Linked DNA regions of Homo sapiens. The protein of the gene in region 2 interacts with the protein of the main gene of each other region in a pairwise test. Each region holds a gene or a part of one and is shown on either strand. Other genes may lie near its edges.

Region 1 (3,753 bases), on a different chromosome or scaffold from region 2:
GGCTGCCCTTTGAGGGCAAGTGTTACTACTTCTCCCCAAGCACCAAGTCATGGGATGAGGCCCGGATGTTCTGCCAGGAGAATTACTCTCACTTGGTCATCATCAATAGCTTTGCTGAGCACGTGAGTTCTTCCCACTGAACCTTTGAGAACCTTCAGGGACAGCCTGCTTCTCTTCCAGGATGCACACATCCCTCCCTTCCCTGGATGGCAAGAAATTAGAATTACTTTTCAGTTACTAAAACTTTAACAGCAAGCTCTTCCTAAGGTAGTATCATGCAGAGGTTAAGAAGACATGCTTTGTTTTTGAGTTCAAATTCTGGTTGTGTTGATTTAACCTCTGTACATTTCAAGTATCGGTTTTATCTCTAACATGAAAATACAATAATTAATATCTGTTAGGTAGCACTTTTTATGTTTCAGGTTGCATTCCAAATACTTTACATCTTACAGTCATTAACACATGCAATCCTCACGACAACCTATACATTAGTATGCCAGTCGGAAGAGTTTATTTCTTTTCTTTTCTTTTTTTTTTTTGAGATGGAGTCTCGCTCTTTCACCCAGGCTGGAGTGCAGTGGCTGGATCTTGGCTCACTGTAAGCTCCGCCTCCCGGGTTCACGCCATTCTCCTGCCTCAGCCTCCTGAGTAGCTGGGACTACAGGTGCCCACCACCACGCCCGGCTAATTTTGTTTTTGTATTTTTAGTAGAGACAGGGTTTCACTGTGTTAGCCAGGATGGATGGTCTTGATCTCCTGACCTCGTGATCTGCCCGCCTCGGCCTCCCAAAGTGCTGGGATTACAGGCGTGAGCCACCACGCTCGGCCTTCTTTTTTTTTTTTTTTTTTTTTTTTTTTTTGAGATGGAGTCTCACTCTGTCACCCAGGCTGGAGTGCAGTGGTGCAATCTTGGCTCACTGCAACCTCTGCCTCCCGGGTTCAAGCAATTCTAGTGCCTCAGTCTCCCGAGTAGCTGGGATTGCAGGCATGTGCCACCACGCCTGGCTAACTTTTGTATTATTAGTAGAGATGAGGTTTCTCCATGTTGGCCAGGCTGTTCTCGAACTCCTGACTTCAGGTGATCCTCCCACCTCTGCCTCCCAAAGTGCGGGGATTATAGGTGTGAGCCACCACGCTGGGCTAGGAGGGGTTACTTTATGCTGCGGTAACAGACAGTCTCCATAGTCCAATGGTGAAAGTAGACGAGGGAAATCATACATTGACTGTCAGAGTTTCCATTTACTTTTGCTCACAAAAGTCACATGTACACGCCTATCTTTTAAGGTGGTAGGGAAATAAGTCTCACCTCCGTGCAACCAGAAGGAGGATTGGAATATGGGTAAATAGCTTTAATGATTTGCTACTACAATTTAGGTAGTATTACTATTTGTACACAATATGTATCATCTGTACTTCACAGGTGAGGAAGTCAAGGTTCCAGTACATGTAAGCAACTTGCCTGGAGTCACTTACAGCTAGTGGGATTTAAGCCTAGGTAGCCGGCTTTCAAGTCCATGGTCTTGACCATAGACATAGGACTATAGTATGGTTTATGTTTCCTTTTTTCTGTTTTTCAGGGACAAGGTCTCACTCTGTCACTCAAGCTGGAGTGCAGTGGTATAATCATAGCTCGTTGCAGCCTCAAAGTCCTAGGCTCAAGCAATTCTTTCGCCTCACCCTCCTGAGTAGCTAGGACAACCAGGCACTTGCCACTGTACCCAGCAAATTATTATTATTATTATTACTTTTTGAGATGGAGTCTCGCTCTGTCACCCAGGCTGGAGTGCAGTGGCGCGATCTCGGCTCACTGCAAGCTCTGACTCCCGGGTTCACGCCATTTTCCCACTTCAGCCTCCCGAGTAGCTGGGACTACAGGCGCCCGCCACCACACCCAGCTAATTTTTTGTATTTTTAGTAGAGACGGGGTTTCACTGTGTTAGCCAGGATGGTCTCGATCTCCTGACCTGGTGATCTGCCTGCCTCGGCCTCCCAAAGTGCTGGGATTACAGGCATGAGCCACCGCGCCTGGCCCAGCAAATTATTTTTACTTTTGTAGAGACAGGGTCTTGCTATGTTGCCTAGGCTCTATGTTTTCTATTCATTTTATTTTTAATTTATTTATGTCATTATATTTAAAATGTTTTTTTTTTCCCAGACAGTATATAGTTGGGTTTGGATTTTTAAAATCTGATCTGATAATCTCTGGCTTTTAATTGGTGTTTTCATTTACTTATTTATGTATTTTTGGAGACAGGGTCTCACTTTGTCACCCAGGCTGGAGTGCAGTGGCGCAGCCTCAGCTCATGGCAGCCTTGGCCTCCTGGGCTCAAGTGATTATCCCACCTCAGCTCCCCACCAAGTAGCTGGGACAACAGGTGTGTGCCACCATGCCTGGATAATTTTTAACATTTTTTGTAGAGATGAGGTTTTGCTATGTTGCCCAGGCTGGTCTGGAACTCCTGACCTCAAGTGATCTGCCGCCTTCACCTCCCAAAGTGCTGGGATTACAGGCATGAGCCACTGTACCCAGCCTAATTGGTATTTTTAGACCGTTTACATTTAATATAATTACTGATTGGGTTGGATTTAGGTCTATCATCTTATTATTTTCCTGTATGTCGTGTCCCTTCTGTTTTTTATCCCTCTGTTTCATAGCATTATTTGTATGAGTAGTTAAACAGTTTTTTTTTTTTGAGATGGAGTCTTGCTGTGTTGCCCAGGCTGGAGTGCAGCAGCATGATCTTGGCTCACTGCAACCTCTGCCTCCCGAGTTCAAGTGATTCTCCCGCCTCAACCTCCCGAGTAGCTGGGATTACAGGCGCCCACCACCATGCCTGGCTAATTTTGTACTTTTGGTAGAGATGGGGTTTCTCCATGTTGGCCAGATTGGTCTCGAACTCCTGACCTCAGGTGATCCACCTGCCTTGGCCTCCCAAAGTACTGGGATTACAGGCATAAGCCACCGTGGCTGGCCAAAACAGGGCTTTTGAAGGAGTTAAATTAGGTAATGTAAATGAGGCAGGTGCAAATCATATTCCCTAACTCAGTTTCACAAGAAATACAACTACATTTCCTTTAAATTACTCATTTTAGTTTCTCTCTTGAGTTCTCATTCTGCTAGAATGGTGTACATTTACTCTCAGTCAATTGGGTTCTCCCATTTTACTTCTAAATGGGGACAGCTTTTGTGGGGTCAAGGTGGAAGGGAGCACACATCGGGTCTTTGCTGTCTTTACTCCAAACTGGTATCTACTGGGACATCTACAGACTGAATGATCCTGGGAAGGTTACTTAACCCCTCTGTGCCTCAGTTTTCTCATCTACAAAATGGGCATAATGATAATACTTGCTTCAGTGAGTCATGATAAGGATCCAATGAGACAATCTGTGCAAAGTAGTATAGCTCACTTTTTTTTTGAGATGGGATCTTGCTCTGTTGCCCAGGCTGGAGTGCAGTGGCATGATCTTGGCTCACTGCAGCCTCCATCTCCCAGGTTCAGGCAATCCTCCTGATTTAGCCTCCCAAGTAACTGGGACTATAGTCACGTGCCACCACTCCCAGCTAAGTTTTGTATTTTTTTTTTTAGTAGAGTTAGGGTATCATCATGTTGGCCAGGCTGCTCTCTAGCTAATGATCTCAAGTGATCTGCTCCCCTTGACCTCCCGAAGTGCCGGGATTACAGGAGTGAGCCACCGTGCCCTAACCCATAGCTCACTTCTTAATTCATTAATTCAACCAACATTTCCTGAGCA
Region 2 (3,753 bases):
AATATGAATGCGTACCTGGGAAGCAGCTCCCACAACGGCTGAGGCACTCAGAGGCAGAGCTTTCTGCTTCTGTCTCATGCGTTCCTGTGTTGATGTGGATAGTCAGCAATATTTAAACAGAGCTCCTAAGAAACATGCCACACGGGAATTCGAAAAGAAATTTCAATGAAGCAATATATGCCTTGACATCCCTTAAAATGTAGCTTCACGTAGTCATTATCTCAACCAGTTATATTATTTCTTTTTCATTTTTCAGTTCTGTCAATCACTCCTTTTTCCCAGTTTGACAATTAAAGATGAAAAATATCTTCTGTTTATATGTCATTTTTCCTTTTGTGGATTGCACAAAAGGAAAATCTTTAAGCTTTACTTCATTTTCTTTTCTTCTTCACATCATAAAAATGATCCTTTCTTTGAAATTTTACTTTCTCTCTGCTTCATCGGGCTACCTTAAATCCAAATATGGGAGAAAATGTTTTCTGCTCACTTCTTAAACTTTGAAAGTTTAAAATCTCAACTTTTAAAATCTTATTTTCCCAAGATTAATCTAAGTCTCCCTCCACCACAAATCTGTAACTGATAGAAACTTGATGAAGAAAATGTCATATATTTTCTTTTCTTTTTTTTTTTTTTTTTTGAGACAGAGTCTTGCTCTGTCACCCAGGCTGGAGTGCAGTGGCGCGATCTCGGCTCACTGCAAGATCTGCCTCCTGGGTTCATGCCATTCTCCTGCCTCAGCCTCCCGAGTAGCTGGGACTGCAGGCGCCCGCCACCATGCCAGGCTAATTTTTTGTATTTTTAGTAGAGACGGGGTTTCACCGTGTTAGCCAGGATGGTCTCGATCTCTTGACCTCTTGATCTGCCCGTCTCGGCCTCCCAAAGTGCTGGGATTACAGGCGTGAGCCACCGCCCCGGCCAAATGCTGCATATTTTCTGCATCAGCCTAAGGGACACCCTGAAGTTTGGCACCTCACAGGTCAACAAATGAGAATATTTCTGTAAATATTAAGTTTTAACTTTTTATAAGGTTTATAACGTCTGTTTAACAAAATTATAACAACTCATACTACTGTGCGTCTGTCCTGCCTCTTTTTTAGAAGACAGTCTACTTGATCCTCCTTTTGCCCTTTCTACCATATAGTTTTTGTTTTAATAATATCCACAAATGACTCAGATTTTTTGAACCATGAAACTCTCAAAGTTTAATCAGTGAGCAGAAACGATTTTCTCCCATATTTGGATTTAAGGTAGTCCAATGAAACAGAGAGAAAGTAAAACTGTAAAGAGAAAATCATTTTTTATGATGTTAAGAAGAAAAGAAAATGAAGTGGCAGCTTAAACTTTGGAAAGATCAGACAGAGAGCTTAAGGTGATCTCCAGAAGAAAATTGCTAGTCGAATTTTCTCAGATAAACATTTATGCTTAGTATAGCACTACTGTTAGAGCATCATTATTTTGAGAAGAAAGTTCAAATTGTCTTGCGTTTAGGGGTTTCTATGTCCTACTGCAGACATAATATTAAAAGGTAGGAAAACATATTTGGTTAATACCTAATATAATACAGTTTGGTAAATATAGTTCCCTTGTCTTGTAAATATCTTATTTTGAAATATCAGCCATTTGTATAGGCCCAAGGGTCTTGTGTCATCTTCAGAATTCTAGTTCCTTCAGCCCAGGAATTCAAAGCAGCAAGAATAACACCACAAAATAAGCTCATAAGCTTATTTTAATGCTATAGTGCTGGATACATAAGATAATCATCTGGTGATTTTTATTTTGGCAAAAAATGTTTTTATAAGTGAAGATTATCAGAAAAGTGTCAATGAGTATTTTTTCTGGCTTAAAGAACTCCAATATGTTTTCAGTGCCAAGGAGAAGGACAGCCTTGTGTATTTAATTACTTTAGCTTATTTTGTCCTCTGGCATGATCTGTTCCCTGATTTCACCACAGTAGAGCTTGCTTTGAAGTTGTAGAAAAATTAAATCAATCACTTGGATCACATGTGTCCCAAAGAATGTGGCTTCCCAGGTAAAAGCAATCTTTCAATCCCCTACTCTCGTTTCACTTTGGCATTTCAACAGCGTTGCAGAATTCTTCGGCAGATAATTTATTTTATCCCTTGGTCCCAGCAGCTCTTATTAAGAGTTTCAGAATTGCCTGTACAAGGTGCACCTTTCACATTACAAGGGATCGGCTCATTTCTTGATGCTTATGCAACCACTTATAACTATGCCTACAGGTAAACATACTGCTGTCTTCTTGGAAGACCGAGAAGTATAAAGAATGTTTATGTGCAGGTCTAGCTGTTCCAAGTACCCAAGTGTTGGTTTAGACACACCTGGATTACCATCCACCTTTTATTGGCTGAGAAAGTTGCCACACCTGATTTGTAAGTTTACCTGTTGCAGCCAATAGCAGGGCCATCTCAGCCAGCCAGCACTGGATACTATCTGGCCAGAAGTAGCAAAGCAGCTCTTATTTGAAAAACCACTGGGTTCCGAGTTCATTACTACAGGAAAAACTGTTCTCTTCTGTGGCACAGAGAACCCTGCTTCAAAGCAGAAGTAGCAGTTCCGGAGTCCAGCTGGCTAAAACTCATCCCAGAGGATAATGGCAACCCATGCCTTAGAAATCGCTGGGCTGTTTCTTGGTGGTGTTGGAATGGTGGGCACAGTGGCTGTCACTGTCATGCCTCAGTGGAGAGTGTCGGCCTTCATTGAAAACAACATCGTGGTTTTTGAAAACTTCTGGGAAGGACTGTGGATGAATTGCGTGAGGCAGGCTAACATCAGGATGCAGTGCAAAATCTATGATTCCCTGCTGGCTCTTTCTCCGGACCTACAGGCAGCCAGAGGACTGATGTGTGCTGCTTCCGTGATGTCCTTCTTGGCTTTCATGATGGCCATCCTTGGCATGAAATGCACCAGGTGCACGGGGGACAATGAGAAGGTGAAGGCTCACATTCTGCTGACGGCTGGAATCATCTTCATCATCACGGGCATGGTGGTGCTCATCCCTGTGAGCTGGGTTGCCAATGCCATCATCAGAGATTTCTATAACTCAATAGTGAATGTTGCCCAAAAACGTGAGCTTGGAGAAGCTCTCTACTTAGGATGGACCACGGCACTGGTGCTGATTGTTGGAGGAGCTCTGTTCTGCTGCGTTTTTTGTTGCAACGAAAAGAGCAGTAGCTACAGATACTCGATACCTTCCCATCGCACAACCCAAAAAAGTTATCACACCGGAAAGAAGTCACCGAGCGTCTACTCCAGAAGTCAGTATGTGTAGTTGTGTATGTTTTTTTAACTTTACTATAAAGCCATGCAAATGACAAAAATCTATATTACTTTCTCAAAATGGACCCCAAAGAAACTTTGATTTACTGTTCTTAACTGCCTAATCTTAATTACAGGAACTGTGCATCAGCTATTTATGATTCTATAAGCTATTTCAGCAGAATGAGATATTAAACCCAATGCTTTGATTGTTCTAGAAAGTATAGTAATTTGTTTTCTAAGGTGGTTCAAGCATCTACTCTTTTTATCATTTACTTCAAAATGACATTGCTAAAGACTGCATTATTTTACTACTGTAATTTCTCCACGACATAGCATTATGTACATAGATGAGTGTAACATTTATATCTCACATAGAGACATGCTTATATGGTTTTATTTAAAATGAAATGCCAGTCCATTACACTGAATAAATAGAACTCAACTATTGCTTTTCAGGGAAATCATGGATAGGGT

The links. The genes of interacting proteins can lie anywhere in the genome.
Region 1: the proteins of CLDN8 (region 2) and CLEC17A interact in binary tests that used the Homo sapiens proteins (3 or more experiments, as listed by UniProt).

What each region holds. Positions count from the first base shown.
Region 1 is NC_000019.10:14,600,061-14,603,813, forward strand, and holds part of CLEC17A (C-type lectin domain family 17, member A), read left to right. Parts: coding exon 1-122; exon of another isoform or gene 123-202; intron 203-3,753. UniProt on the Homo sapiens protein: Cell surface receptor which may be involved in carbohydrate-mediated communication between cells in the germinal center. Binds glycans with terminal alpha-linked mannose or fucose residues.
Region 2 is NC_000021.9:30,214,784-30,218,536, reverse strand, and holds the start of CLDN8 (claudin-8), read left to right. Parts: upstream 1-2,439; 5' UTR 2,440-2,611; coding exon 2,612-3,289; 3' UTR 3,290-3,753.